Regions from separate parts of the Homo sapiens genome. Here region 2 is linked to region 1. A link means that fine-mapping ties the variant in region 1 to the expression of a gene that starts in the linked region. Tissue or cell type: whole blood. Region 1 holds a variant in brackets; the other region holds the start of a gene. All regions are shown on one strand. Distances are from middle to middle.

The links. PIP is the estimated chance that this variant, and not a neighbour inherited with it, causes the effect.
Region 2: SASH1 starts here. The variant in region 1 is fine-mapped to the expression of SASH1 in whole blood (INTERVAL, PIP above 0.99).

Annotation. Positions count from the first base shown.
Region 1 is chr6:148,423,374-148,431,556 of GRCh38, reverse strand. All of the region lies in intron 2 of SASH1 (SAM and SH3 domain containing 1), which reads right to left. Among named protein-coding and RNA genes, the nearest start is that of SASH1, 85 kb to the right of the region's middle. The variant T/C (reference allele first, on the strand shown) is at 5,091.
Region 2 is chr6:148,338,798-148,346,980 of GRCh38, reverse strand. It overlaps SASH1 (SAM and SH3 domain containing 1), which reads right to left and starts at 4,143. Exons shown (of 20, transcript NM_015278.5): 1 at 3,758-4,143. The coding sequence starts at 3,913. RefSeq lists enhancers at 1-68, 4,917-5,496.

The sequences.
Region 1 (8,183 bases):
TTCCAGTCAATTCATGGAACATGTGTCGATTTTACCAGGACTTAAAATTCAACATTGTCAGCCAGGCGTGATGGCTTATACCTATAATCCAGCACTTTGGGAGGTTGAGGTGGGTGGATCATCTGAGGTCATGAGTTTGAGACCAGCCTGGCCAACATGGTGAAACCCTATCTCTTCTAAAAATACAATAATTAGCCGGGCGTGGAGGCCGGCATCTGTAGTCCCAGCCACTAGGGAGGCTAAGGCAGGAGAATGGCTTGAACCCGGGAGGAGGAGGTTGCAGTGAGCCGAGATCGTGCCACTGCACCCCAGCCTGGGCGACAGAGTGACTCCGTCTCAAAAAAAAAAAAAATCTATTGTCTTAGGAGTCTTCTCACTCCCCACTAAATCAGCTGCCCAAAGCTACTGCTTTTCTCTTCCCAAGGTTTCTGGCATCCATCCAGTGAATCCATTCCACTTGTAGTCCTTCGCCTCACAGCTACCTGGGCTACCAGCATACGGCTGCATGGAAAGTACTGTCAGCTGGGAGACTGGAGTCCAGTTCTGCTCCCTGCTGTAGTGTAACCTTTAGAACCTGTTTTGTTTGGTTTGGTTTTTCCAATGGCAACAAACGGCAAATGGACCACTTGATAATCTTTAGGGTCCTTTTTTACTCTAAAAGGGCTATAAGTGGTGTCATGCCCCTCTAATCACTATTGTCAACTCCATCTTCTGGAAATAGTACTCTGTGTCTCTGCTATTCAAAATGTGATTTGTGGACCATCTGCATCAGCATCACCTGGGAACCTGCTATACATCCAGTCATGGTCCCATCCCAGACCTCCTGAATCAAAATCTGCAATTTGCCAAAATTCCCCAGTGATGTGTATTGTTTGAGAAACTCACTGCTTCTGTGTCACTTCTCTCTTCCAAAATCTTTCCTGGAGGCAGGGTGCAGTGGCTCAAGCCTGTAATCCTAACACTCTGGGAGGCCAAGGCGGGTGGATCGCTTGAGGTCAGGAGTTTGAGACCAGCCTGGCCAACAGGGTGAAACCTCATCTCCACTAAAAATACAAATATTAGCCAGGCATGGTGGCATGCGCCTATAATCCCAGCTACTTGGGAGGCCAAGGCAGGAGAATCGCTTGAACCCAGGAGGCGAAGGCTGCAGCAAGCTGAGATGGCGCCACTGCACTCCAGCCTGGGTGACAGAGCGAGACTCTGACTAAAACAAAACGAAATCCACAAAATCTTTCATGGAAACACAATACTGACAGGATGAAGTCCACGTTTCAGAAGAAGAAGCCCCCTTCACCAAATAGCCTGATCATAAACCCTCTTAGTGAACAGTTACCATGTCCTCTGCTCCCTGAGTGCAGACTGAGCCTGGTGTCTCACTTCTGCTTATGCTACCTAGAGTGCTTCTCCTTTCTATCCATCCAAATCCTACTCATCCTTTAGCTCCAATCCCAATACGCTCTCCTATTTAACCTTCTCTGCCCACTTGGGCCTTAAATGATATCCCTGAGTATGGGCACACCAATGACTAGCCACATCACTTATTCATTAAATGTACCTATGGGTAGCGACTCTTCTACTCACTTACTGGTTTTCCTCAACTAGACTGTAAATGGCCTTCCAATAAATTCCTGTTGAAATTCATTGTATGCCACCACAATCCATCAAAATCTATTTACTTAGCATTTACTATCTGCCAGGACATCCCCTTGAGAATGTTACTTTCTACAGCCTTGCACAGGCTCCCTGTACAAGGGAGTACTACTGGGAATCTATTGATTTTTTTGTTTGTTTGTTTGTTTTTGTTTTTTTTTAAAGAGATGGGATCTTGCTCTGTCGCCCAGGCTGGAGTACCGTGGTGTGACCATAGCTCGCTACAGCCTTGACCTCCTAAACTCAAGTGATCCTCCCGCCTGAGGCTCCCAAGCAGCTGGGGCTGTGGGTATACACCACCATGCCTAATTTATTTTTTTTAGAGATGGAGTCTTGCTATGTTGGCCAGGCTGGTCTCAAACTCCTGGCCTCAAGCAAACCTCCCACCTCAGCCTCCCAAAATGATGGGATTAGAAGTGTGAACAACTGTCCTAGGCCTGGTTTGTTTAAATTGGATCACTTTGCCAATAAGCCTGACTCTTTTTTCCTTCCTCTTTTTTTTTTTTTTTTTTTTTTTTTTTAAGAGACAGGGTCTTGCTCTGTCACCCAGGCCTAGGTTGGAGTGCAGTCATAGTCCACTGCAGCCTTGACCTCCCAGGCTCAAGCAATCCTCCTGCCTCAGCCTCCTGGATAGCTGGGACTACAGGTATGTGCTACCATGCCCAGCTTCCTTCCTTTAATTTGTGTTTGCAATTTTACTGCATGGGATGTGTATTTTCATGTTTTTATTTAAGATTTACTTTTGGATTGCAGAGTTACACTAGGAAGCAAAAATAATTCAACAAATATTTAAGATCTACAACCTAGATACATAAGAACTTAAAACAGAATGTTGTAATGTTTAATCACTTTTAGGTAAAAATCAGTAGTGGCCTGTCAGTTTCTTCATCCATACCTAACTCTTCAGCTTTTCATGTCTCATTTCACCCGTATTGCTCGAGGTATAGCAGAAGATGTTAGTCATTGTTCTGGACCCCCATAAGCTCTTGGCCTGGTATAAGAAATTTTCTTCCGAGTGAAACTGAAGGAAAAGTACTCTCATCCCATCATATCAAAGAAGAAAGGTTCTAAGGGGGAAATTTTTATTTCACAGCTGAAGAATTCTATTCCACTAACTGCAACCTTTAAGTCTCACCATAATTAAGGGATCAGTGAATTTCTGCAAGCTTTCATAAGAAAGAAACCTGAAGTGGCAATTTCCACCCAGCCATTAGTGCTCTCTGTTAAAATAATTGAGCCTTTTGCTGTATTAGTTTATATTCTCTTTTTTTTTTTTTGAGATAAAGTTTCACTCTTGTGGCTCTGGCTGGAGTGCAGTGGCGCCATCTCAGCTCACTGCAACCTCCGCCTCTCAGGTTCAAGCAATTCTCCTCCCTCAGCCTCCCGAGTAGCTGGGATTACAGATGTGTACCACCACACCTAGCTAATTTTTGTATTTTTAGTAGAGATGGTTTCACCATGTTGGCCAGGCTGTCGCGAACTCTTAACCTCAAGTTAAGATCCGCCTGCCTTGGCCTCCCAAAGTGCTGGGATTACAGGCATGAGCCACCGCACCCGGCCTGATAGTTTATATTCTGCAGTTATTAGTTACTTATTTATTTAGGCCTCACCACGTTCCAGAAAATGACTTAAGATGGCTAAGTAACTTAGTTCAGTGTTACATGATAAAAGTAAAAAGCTAAAGAGCTAATTAATTTATATGACACAAATAGCAGAGGGAACAAGACTACAAAGTAGAGTAGGCCCAGGGATTCAGTTAGTTCATAAAAGGTGAGCCATGGGATGCTACAGTACAGACAGACAACATGATCAGTTACGAGATGGATGTTACTATACTTTTATGTCTTAAGGTAGCCATAGGAAAATGGCTCTTTCTCTGAGTAAAAATTTCTCCTCTGGCTTCTGGCAGAGATAACACACTATTACTCTGAAAGATACCACATGGAAAATTCCTGAAGAAGTCACCTTGCTCTGGAAATGCTTTCACATTGGGCAAAGCTGAAATTAGGTCTGAGATCCCCGAATGAAAGCGGAGGAGCATACCAAGGGGGCCTCCCTGAGGTCCACACTCCCGTACCCATTCAGAGGAGACAAGAAGTACCCAGGGCAGGAACAGAAATCAGTCTGGGAAGACAGGAGGGTAAGTTCCACCATCTTGAAGCATGGCTGTGCTAAAATACATCAGAGTTGAATTGGTTAAATTCAGGAGTAATTTGAATCTAAGAGGGTCAAGCTTGGTGCTCCCACACCTCATGTCAAACAAGGCGTATACTGCTTTAATGTCTAAACTGTCTTTGTTTAAAACTATGTACTAGATCGTTTAAGCTACAACTTTACCAATGTTGAGTGCATACCACATACCAAGCATTTTGCATGGAGATAAGAATAAGATCTACACACCACAATGTGGCAATGGATCACTTCAATAAGATGTGAGTGTTGTGTTAGAAGAATGCACCTTTTACAGTGTACAAAACACCAGAGTGTCATGTTATATAAATGTAATCATTAAAAGACACAGTGTCCATGAAGACATTTTAGTTATCCTAAAAAACAAATCCAACAAGTTCTATAATTCAATTTTTCATTCTACTAGCAGGACTTGGCATATCCACACTATAATCCACCCCCTGGGTGAATTTCCCAGGGGTAAAGACCATGATATCTGGCCATTCTAGATGGTAGTGGCTATCCCCAGAATCCTCTCACCCTCCCTGTTCTCATCCCATGCTCACTAAGTGATCTCCTTTGCTTTTTTGAGACAGAGTCTCACTCTGTTGCCCAAGCTGGAGTGCAGTGTGCAGTGGCACAATCTCAGCTCACTGCAACCTCTGCCTCCTGGGTTCAAGTGATTCCCCTGCCTCAGCCACCCGAGTAGCTGAGATTATAGGCACGCACCACCCACACTGAGCATGTATATATATATTGTATTTTTAATAGAGATGGGGTTTTGCCATGCTGACCAGGCTGGTCTCAAACTCCTGGTCTCAAGTGACCAGCCGCCTCAGCCTCCCAAAGTGCTGGGATTACCCGTGTGAGCCACCGTGCCCGACCACTAAGTGATCTTCTGAGTACATCCAGTTGCTCACTGGGATTGACTAACATAAGACAAAAGTGACAGGAAGCACTACATAAGCTCATTTCCTTTTGCTTTCTCTGTTTTTTTCCATCTCCTCTTTCATCTAATCATTCCATCATTTTAAAAATAGTTACTGAGCCCATAAGTCAACGAGGATAAAACAGTGAAACAGACACGCACCACTTCAGTGGGGTTTCCATCTAGTGAATTCTTAAGTCACTCACTTTGCATTTCAACTCTAAGCCACAGGTACAACACTCCTTCTGTTCGGGCACCAGGCACATGACATCTGGGTAACTCTGCTCAGCTCTGGATGCCACATTTCCCGGGGACAATGGAAACCAGAGCACCTTCACTAGAA[T/C]GGTGTCTGGAAATGGTATCAAATACTCAGGATCAATTGGAGGAAGCAGGGCTGTTTACACAGAGAAGGGAAGAAAAATATAAACATGGGAAAGCCTTCCAGGGAGCAGGGAACTGCCCAGTGCAGAGCTGTCCGACCCCTTTCCCCACAGCGGTCCCCTGACAATGAGAGCGCACTGCACACTAGGAGAAACTGAGAAAATTTTAAATGGAAAAAAAAGTATTATTATTTTTATTTATTTATTTATTTATTTTGAGATGGAGTTTCACTGTTGTTGCCCAGGCTAAAAGAGTGCAGTGGCACGATCTCGGCTCACTGCAGCCTCCGCCTCCCAGGTTCAAGCCATTCTGCTGCCTCAGCCTCCCCAGTAGCTGGGATTACAGGCGTGTGCCACCACACCCAGCTAACTTTTGTATTTTTAATAGAGACCAGGTTTCACCATGTTGGCCAGGCTAGTCTCGAACTCCTGACCTCAGGTGATCTGCCCGCCTTGGCATCTCAAAGTGCTGGGATTACAGGTATGCGCCACCACGCCTGGCCAGAAGTATTCTTTTAAAGTAATACCTAATGACCATTGAGAAAATAAAATCAGGCCAGACACAGTGGCTCACGGAGGCTGAGGCAGGAGAATCACTTGACCCTAGGAGGCAGAGGTTGCCGTGAGCCAAGATTGTGCCATTGCATTCCAGCCTGGGGGACACAGGGGGACAGGGAAAAAAAAAAAGGAGGAGGGGGAGGGGAAGGGAGAGGGGGATGGGAGGGGAGAAGGGGAGGGGAGGGGAGGGGAAAGAGAAAAAATCAGAGTATTAGTGAAGATATTAAATATCGAATTGACATAATACTTTTAAATAAAATATTTTCCAATTTTTTCAAGAATGTTGAGCTTACTTCTTTGAAAATAATTGTCTTTGAAATAACTGTCTATATGCTTGAAAGAACTATATGCCATTCCAGATCAAGATGTTTAATGATGATCTCTTGATGTTCTTGTTGGTTATTAGTAACAAGAAGTTTTACTCAAACTAAGAGGTAAAAATTGTTTTAACCTTTTTTACAACCATTTTAAATTTATTAAGCATTTTACAGCCAACAGAAATACGGCAATTTCTATTTCAAGAATGTAAAAGCACCTTATTTCATTAACAGACACAGTGAAATCTCTTATGAAAACATAACAGATTTTAAATCTAGTTTAATTTTTCAATTAGGTACTACAATATACTGACAAAGTTCTTGCGTGCAGCCTTGTGCATGCAGTGTTCATCCTGAAGCTAGCTTGGCCGTGCTGGTCCAGAGCTGCCTCCCACCACATCTGACCACTGCACCTTGGACTCCATGCCTGAAGCTTCAATTCATCTCTTCCATGAGCTTCAGGGACCCTTGACCATGATGACCAAGTATGCCGCTGAAGTACACATCACCCATCCTGTGTACTGCTCATGGGAATCACTTACACCGCTCTGCCCTGGGACCATGTTCCAATAAGCCCTGTCAGCGGTTCTCAAACTTAGTGCCTTGCAATCCCTGGAGGGCTTCTTAAACACAGATTGCTGGGTCCTACCCAAGAGTTTCATCTGCATTTTTACCAAGTTCCCAGGTGACACTGATGCTACAGGCTGAGGAGCCACACTTTGAGAACTACTGGTCCAAAGAAGGCTGCTCAGAGCTGCTTCTAGTCAGATTCAGTGGCCTGCAGGTGAAGGGGTAGGTGTATCTGGAGCCCCACCTGAAGTCTGGCCTGGTTTTCAGTGCTCTAAAAGGGATGATCAAGACTAAGGATTTTAAAGTTAAGAGGAGGCTGGACTCAGTGGCTCACACCAGTAAACCCAGTGCTTTGGGAGGCCCAGGCAGGAAGATCCTTAGAGGCCAGGAGTTAGAGGTTACAGTGAGTTATGATTGCACCACGGCACTCCAGCCTGGGCAAACAGAACAAGCCCCATCTGGCCGGATATGGTGGCTCACGCCTGTAACCCCAGAACTTTGGGAGGCCAAGGTGGGCGGACAACTTGAGGTCAGGAGTTTGAGACCAGCATGCCAACATGGTGAAACCCCGTCTCTACTAAAGATATAAAAATTGATCAGGCATGGTAGCACATGCCTGTAATACTAAGTACTTGGGAGGCTGAGGCAGGAGAATCACTTGAACCCACAGTAAGCTGAGATTGCGCCACCGCACTCCAGCCTGGGTGACAGAGCGAGACCCTGTCCCACCTCCCCCCCCCAAAAAAAAAAAAGAAGAAGAACAAGACACCGTCTCTAAAAGAAAAAAAATTTTTTAAAAGACAAAGATGGACTCACCATCATTTTATTAAAAAGGATGGGGGAGGAGGGCAAGCAGAGCCAGGTGTCCAACAATAGAATAAATTACTTACAACATGTGGAAACCACATCAATGGAGCATTCAAGCTTGACTGCAGGACTGTCTGCTGTCTGGGATGGGGATTTTTTTTTTTTTTCTTCAGAAACTGGTCAGACCTCTGACCGACTACTATAATTCCACTACTTGATTGGAGTGTAATCATTGGAAATGAAATTAAGTTATTGTGGTATAATTTATCGTTTACATGAGTTTTTTTTAATGGGAGAAGGAACTGCAAGTTCTAGCCCAATCACTCAAACATTTGAAACAGACGACCTTCCAAAGTTGGCAACAGCCTACAACTGAACAAACATTTATGTCTTCATCTATTCAACGAGTGTTTCCTGACCAGTTTGTACTCAGTTGACGTGCTGGGTACTGGCAGTATAAAAAAACAGTCACTGACCTTCAAGAGCTCGCAGTTAAGCAAGAGAAACAGTAACTGAGAATATAAAAAATTAAAGGCTTTCATGTTATCATATAAATAACGTCGGAACTGATTAGTATGCAGATTGGGTGACTGAATAAGGGATTTACAAAATTATGCAGCCTGATCAAACAGGAGGTGCTAAATTTGAATGGTTCCTCTAATAGATCAGCTCACATTTTGTACTAATGAAGTGTCACTATTATTGTTGTCTTTGCTATTGTAAAATCATGTGGTGCTATCATGACATTTAACCACTTTCTCATTCTCTGAACCATATTTTCTAACCATCTTTAAATATTGTGTA
Region 2 (8,183 bases), 85 kb after region 1:
GGATTCTAACTCAGTTTTGCACTTCTCAATAGAAGTCTACACATGTCACAGGGAGAAGTGACATGCTTTGAAAACCCTGGCCTACCACATGTCGTGGTGTTAGTGAACAGAATGGCACATTTCACAAGAACGCCAAGGTTTAATAGCTCAGGGCTTATAAACATGTTGCAGTTTACCATTAGTTTCCAGTGGAAGCACTGGGATTTTAATTTGCACGATGAAACTGCCCAAAATGCAGTTTCAGCCAGAGCAGAATGTATTCACATCTTTATAAATGTAACCCATTACATTACAGCAGGCACATGTGTCTTGACAGAACAATGCTTTGATGTGACTCCTGCATTTAAGAAATACATACTTTTCCCCTTTTTCTTTCAACAAAGCCATGTTCTCAGCACCCAGTTAAGTCAGGAGCACTGGAGATAGAAAAATGAGTAAGACACTGACCCTGCCCTCCAGGCACTCACAATCTAGTTAATTTTTTTTTTTTTTTGCAAGCTTGTTTTCTCTTAATTCTATATCCATTTATATATTCACTTATTAGCATTTATTTATTCTAGTACTGCTCAAACATTTTCATGCCGTAAATTATACTATTATTTCTTTTCTAAATGAGCACTTTGTTAACAATTATCTGAAAGCAACTATTTGGTGCTTAACTGTGCATGGACTGAATTAATCTAAATGCAAAATGTGTCCTAATGAACTCAAACAACCATCCTGTATTTACTGAGATCCATGACTCTGGGGCAATACTTTCACTGGGTTATAACCAACAAAATCCCCTGGGGGACAACTGCTCAATATTGCTCATTCACCTAAAAATGTTTTCACTTACTAAGCTGTGAGTTTTGTCATTTCAAAGTTCCACATACAGTATTGATAAGCTGTGTGGTTTGATTTCCACAATTAGAATAATCTGAAAAAGTAAGGTAGAACTGTGTCTGAAATCTGTTAAGGATAATGTTCAGATGTGTAATTTCCCAACTACCTCTACTGTCCTCTTCAAGTTCAGTACGGAAAAAGAATCTTGTAAGTCACATTTTACCTAAAACACACAGGATTTCTAAATGTACTGAACTACATTTCTACTGAATTCATCTGAGAGTTAACTATGGAGCGTCATGACATCAGGATCCCTACTGGAGGGGCCAGCGACCAGGGACAAGTCTAACATTGTCACTAACATGGTATGTGCCATTGGCCAAGTCACTTCACCTGTCTAGATTGATAGATGATTGCAAAATCTTATATTTTAAATAAAAAAGGAAGGAAATGGTGTCTCTTGTTTCAGTGAGAATAAAGTCAACTGTTAATTTTGTGTCTTGATGTATTTCCCCGAAGACTCAGTTTGTATAAACACTTGGATGACAGCTTTCCCTCCCTTTTAGCCTGGTGTCTCCCTGCAAGACATCTACAAAGGAGCAGTAAGCCATGTCTTCCTCTGAATTTTACTAAGGAACAATCTCCATGCCTGTTTACCCCAGATAAACAAGAGGAAAACATGAGCAAACACAACCTGTCTGGGACAGGCTTTACGTTCTTCCCAGCCTGATCCTGAATGATTAGCTGAAGTACATATTTTCTTTGCTCCTGCATCTGCCCTTTCAATAGCAGGTTTGAGCTTCTGAAGCCCCACCCCATCTTTTAACTCAGCCAAAGAACACTCCACTACAACTGACCCAACAGTGCTGGAATCTGTCAGGGAAGGGAAAGCAAATCTGCAGAAAATGCCACTGGCCAACCCTCTTCCCCAAAAGAACCCTCAGCCCAAGTTTCATTTAAACAGGCCCCCAATCCTCCCCGCCCCCAGCCCAACGCCCTAGAGTAAGGGATACAATGGGATATTATCAAACCAATTTCCTCAGTGACTGAAAACTTAGAACTGGATCTAGACAAGAAATAACAGGATAACTTAAAAACAGTCTATCGGGCGCGGTGGCTCACGCCTGTAATCCCAGCACTTTGGGAGGCCGAGGTGGGCAGATCACAAGGTCAGGAGTTCGAGACCAGCCTGGCTAACATGGTGAAACCCCGTCTCTACTAAAAATACAAAAATCAGCCGGGTGTGGTGTTGCGCGCCTGTAATCCCAGCTACTCAGGAGGCTGAGGCAGGAAAATTGCTTGAACTCAGGAGGCGGAGGTTGCAGTGAGCTGAGCTCGTGCCACTGCACCCCAGCCTGGGCGACGGAGCAAGACTTCGTCTCAAAAAAAAAAAAAAAAAAGAAAAGAAAAAGTTTATCACAACTTTAAAATGTCCATTAGGTTTTCTGGAACTTCAGTGAAGGATCATATTCATCTGTATACTTCAGAAAATGCAAAAACAAAACCTTTTAAATCTAAAATATATATTAGATTTAGGTATATTATATACATGTGCTATATATAGTATGTAAATATACATTGCATGCATATTTATATACATTTTTCAATACTGGAGAGTGACAAGAGCAGATAGAAATCTTTAACCAACGCTCGCTGGTTCTCTGTATAGTAAGAATCATAAATACCAATGGTCACCTGAAAATGGAGTAACTGGGCTTTTAGGATGTCCAGAAGGAAGAGACAGGAGACTTTGCAGGAAACAAATAAAACCTGAAAGACAGCTACACTTATTGAGCCTCTACTATATGCTATACAGTCTGCTGAGTACTTGATACACACATCAACCCAGCTAAATCTCAGAAACCCCAAGAAGCAAGTCTTCTTTTCTTCAATTTTCAGGTGATGAAACTGAGGATCAGAGAGGTTGAATGACTTGGCCAAGATCATGTAAACAGTCAATTGGAGAGCTGGCATTTGACCTAGTATAACTTACTTTGAAGCCCAAGAGTTTAATCACTGTGCTAAAAACTGTACACGGTTTATCATTCCCAAAGAAGAACTTTCACTCCATCTCCTCCCACTCAAAAAATATAAGATCTCAAAGCAAATCTAGAGACTTTTCTGATAATCTGCACATCTGGCCATTCCAAGTCTTTAAACTAAAGTTGTCTTTTATGTATGGATTAAGATGTCTGACTGTAATAAACCTCGCCCATCTGATTCCAGTCTACCTGCCTAACTACAGCTCCACCAAAGCAAATCTATTACTTCCCCAAGGTATTCAACCCTGAGCAGGTTAAAACTTCACCCTCCATACAGAAGAACTGCTTCCCAGAGACTATGCCAAATCCAGGGGCGCTTTTAGTCACTGGACATTTCAAAATACATGACAGCACAGATTTAGCAAAATAAGTCCTATTGTTTTAGCCCCAAACATATAAAACAAATATCCTGTAACTCCACAAATTGAAAAACTGCAAAAAAAAGTAGGCAAACATTTTGGCAGTTCTGAGTAAGGAAATGTTTGTTTTCCCTCTTGTGGTCACACAACAAATGGTGAAGAGATAAACATCAGTAACATCAGCCTTTTCCCTAATCCAGCACCAACCAAATATTTATTTACATCTACTTTTTGAAGGCCTCTTTCTCGCCTTTTCCACACCAACATGTCAGCAGGTGTCCCAGATTAAACTGTTGAATATCATACCCGATTGTTTAAAAAACACCTTTTGACGGGACCTGTGGCTGGTTATTTTTTAATTAGGGTTTGAAATCCTATACTGTGTGTATTTAGCCCCCTAAGAACTAGAGCCAGAGAAGGACGCCTCTGCGGAGTGGGTTGCCCAGTGGGTGGGCGAGAAGGGAGCCCCCGGTTTCAGAGGGGCTGCTGCGAACTGTACTTCCTGCGCCGCCCCCTCCCCAGGTAACTTACCAGGATACCCATCACGTCGGTCCAGAGTCGGGAGAACGCCTCGGATGTGCCAGCACCCGGCTTGGGCTCCGGTTCCGGCTCCGGCGCGGGCTCGGGCTCCGGCTCGGGCTCGGGCTCAGGCTCCGGCCCCGGGCCAGCTGCTCCCGCGTCCTCCATGGCCGTGTCCCGCGCGCGGGCCGTGCGTCCCAGTCCCCGCGGCGCCCTCGCCCCGCACCCGCGCGCAGCCTGCCCGGATGCCGGGTCCCCGCCCGCGGCGTCACCGAGCCGCGCCCCCGCGCTGCATGCCCCGGCGGCCCCGGCCACCCCGCGGGGGCCCTTCGCAGGCGCCCGCACCTCGGGTCTAGGTGGCCACGGGCTGCGCGACTGACAACTCCAGAAACTTTCCCACCCCGCTCGGCGCAGCAACAGGGTAGCAGGAGGCAAAGTCCGCACCACTGAGTTGTACGGCGGGGAATTCGCTCGGCCCAGAAGCAATTAAACCCACTGCAAAGGCGTTTCTTCCTGTGACGGGAACCAACTAACTAAGGCACGCGACTCGTTCCTTCTAGCAAGTCTTGGCAGGACCCGGCAGGGGTGGCCGCGGAGCCTCTAGATCTTGGAGGGAGCTCCCCGGGACCCCTCTCTTCAAAATGAGCTCTTCCAGCTCCACATGACTCTCTCCCTCGAGGCTAAAGAAAGCGTTTAGCAACAAAAGGTGCTCTGATGTCAGGCTCTTTGCATGGAAATGAGCCTCGGACAGGAGAACAAATCGCCTGTTGAAAGAGCAGCCGCGCCGCGGTCTCCGGCCCGCACAAGTTTCCAATCACGCTATTCACGGAAACGCTTTTGGTAACGGAAACCCGAGAAAGTTAATCTTTAAGCGACTCCCGCCCAAAGGCTTCACAAGTAGTCCGTGTCGCTACAATGCATACCTCGCCCCTCGTGAAGTCAAGCGACCCAAGGAATTACAAATCCTGCCTCTGCCAGCCAAGACTTCTCTGCAAAACAAGTGTGAAAGCTTGGGCACGAGCCATTGTTTGGATCATTTTTTATGAGTGGGGGCATTTTGGCTCCTGAATGCCCACAATGCCATGCATTGCTAGGGCTTTCGGCTAATTAAGGGAAATGCGCTTTGGGTTTTAATTATTCCTTTACATTAGGGACACAGGGAAGGGCTATTTTCGAAACTAAATTCAAATGATTGTGTAGCCAGTCAGCCTACACACACTTGGGGCCCTGTGTGTGTTTTTCCAAGGGGAAGCCCCAGGACAGATTTATTTTATAAGGGAACTAGCCCTGGAGAGGTGATTTTTCCCTTTTGTGATTCTATCTTTCAAGACTACTCAGAGTTTTCCTTGGAAGGTGACAATGCACGTCACATTCGATTTGGTGATTGATCACTTTTGAAACAGTTAAGAAACCACATGGAGTTTGCTCCTCTGTTAGGGCCTTGTGGTTTAAAAGGAAAAAAAAAAGTGAGATGCCCCAGGGAGAGAGCCCTGCTTGTTTTGAGGCCTCTCCTGTTTCTTGTTGATTGTGGGGTTTTTTTTGTTTGTTTGTTTGTTTTGTTTTGTTTTGTTTTGTTTTCCTTCTGAGTCCACTTGAAAGGGGATAAGAGCATGTCCTTGAATTCCCCTTGTTCAAGTATTAAGTGCTGTGAGCACCAATCAATGCAATGGGTGAATAGTCCTTACAGGAAAGTTCAAAATGTAAAAACATTTTCAAAAGTAACTAAATTTATAAACACAATCCCTGATAATTTTTGTGTGTTTTTGGCGGGTGCGGGGCTGGCGCCTGTAATCCCAGCACTTTGGGAGGCTGAGGCGGGCGAATCACTTGAGGCCAGGATTTTGAGAACAGCCTGGTCAACACAGCAAAACCCTGTCTCTACTAAAAATACAAAAAAAAAAAAAACAAAAAAAAAAAACAAAACATAGCAAGAGTGTTGGAACATGCCTGTAATCCCAGCTACTCAGGAGGCTGAGGCAGGAGAATAGCTTGAACCCAGGAGGCGAAGGTTACAGTGAGGTCCTGCTGCTGCACTCCAGCCTGGGTGACAGAGGAAGACTCTCTGTCTCCAAAGAAAAAAAAAGTATGCTGAAAAATTTTTTTAGAGACAAGGTCCTGCTCTCTCACCCCGGCAGTGCAGTGCTGCAATCGTAGCTCACTGCGGCCTTGAACTCCTGGGCTCAAGCAATCCTCCTGCCTCAACCACCTGAGTAGCAGGGACTACAGGCACACCGCTGCACCAGACTAATTTTTTAAATTTTTTATAGAGACATGATCTCTTGCTGTTGCCCAAGGTGGTCTCAAACTCCTGGACTCAAGGGATCCTCCCTCCTTGGTCTCCTCAAGTGCTGGGATTATAGGCATGAGCCACTGCGCACAGTCTCTGACGATAATGTTTGTGAAAGGAAACCAAAAGAATTATTAAATTTCTCCTTAATAGCATTGAGGCATTGTGTTGAAGTAGAAAGAGCACTGAACTATGAGTCAGTACAGCCAGGTCTTGTGCTTTCCTAGGCTGATGCCGGAGTTAGGCCAGATGGGTTTTCAAGGCTCCCTCGTGCTCTGTGATACTTTGAATAAAAATAAATTCAGTTAAGGCTGATGAGGTTTTTTTAATTGTCATTTCTATAAATAGATAAATATAAGTAAATGATAGGAAAAGATAAATAGCCTTTACAGTTGACTGTATTGGTATATTTAAGAATTTGAATTTATTCACCACGTGATACTTTTTTTTTTTTTTTTGAGACAGAGTCTTGCTCTGTCACCCTGTCGCCCAGGCTGGAGTGCAGTGGCACCATCTTGGTTCACTGCAACCTCTGCCTCCCAGGTTCAAGCGATTCTCCTGCATCAGCCTCCTGAGTAGCTGGGATTACAGGCATGCACCACCACGCCTGGCTAATTTTTGTATTTTTAGTAGAGACGGGGTTTCACCATATTGGTCAGGCTGGTCTCGAACTCCTGACCTCATGATCCACCCGCCTCAGCCTCCCAAAGTGCTGGGATTACAGGCATGAGCCACCGTGCCTGGCCTGGTACTTTCTTAAATTTAAGAAGATGCAGAGGACTGTGCTGCTTCCAAGGGGCAGCCTGTTCTCTACATAAACACTTTCCAGCAAATAACTCAGCAAGGAGCCAGGCAAGCCGGGCAGTTGGGGCTGGGGTTAGGATGAAGCCTGACTCTCCAGCACCAATCCAGAATCATTTTCTTCTTGACTCATCAGATGACCTGGGGCAAAGCATTTGACCTGGTGCTAGTTTCCCCATCCAAGATGAGGCAAGGCCATACTAATGGCCACCTGCTTCTTCACAGGTTATAGTATGTTTCAGGGTCATCTAAAGACACGTACAGTTTAGTGACAACACATACCCGCATCAGTGTAATTAAACGGGCCGGGCATGGTGGCTCATGCCTGTAATCTCAGCACTTTGGGAGACTGAGGCAGGCACATCACTTGAGGCCAGGAGTTCGAGACCAGCCTGGCCAACATGACAAAACCCCATCTCTACTAAAAATATAAAACTTAGCCAGGCATGGTGGCACACACCTGTAGTCCCAGCTACTTGGGAGGCTGAGACAGGAGAATCGCTTAAACCTGGGAAGTGGAGGTTGCAGTGAGCCACTGCACTCAGCCTGGACGACAGAGCGAGACTCCATCTCAAAAAATACATCTATATAGATATTTATATAGATATCTATATTTATAATTATATATCTATATATATACACACACATATAATTAAACCTTAGCCAGCATTTTGGCACTTATAGAAATCAACCTATTCTAGATATTTAAGCTGTTTTTCCTGGTGCTTCTTAATCAATGGATAGGGAAATGAGATAATGTTTTGGGAGAAATGTTGATGCCTATACATAGAATGTGAAATTTGAGGCCAGGCATGGTTACTCATTCCTGTAATCCCAGCACTTTGGGAGGCCGAGGCAGAAGGATCATCTGAGGTCAGCAGTTTGAGACCATCCTGGCCAACATGGTGAAACCTCGTCTCTACTAGAAATACAAAAATTAGCTGGGCATGGCAGCATGTGGCCTGTAGTCCCAGCTACTTTCTACTTATCAATTTCCATGTGTTAACTCAACATGATCTGATTACCACTCCCAAGATTGACGACTCTTTTCTCTCTTAGTTAATGTCACTTGTCACTCCTTTCTTCTAAAATTTCCTTCAGGGGCTTTTTATCTCTCTCTCTCTTTTTTTTTTTTTTTTTTTTAAAGACAGAGTCTCGCTCATTGCCCAGGCTGGAGTGCAGTGGCCCGATTTCGGCTCACTGCAATCTCCCCCTCCTGGGTTCAAGCAATTCTCCTGCCTCATCCTCCCAAGTAGCTGGGACTACAGGAGCCTGCCACCACGCCCGGCTAATTTTTGGATTTTTAGTAGAAATGGGGTTTCACCATGTTGGCCAGGCTGGCCTCAAACT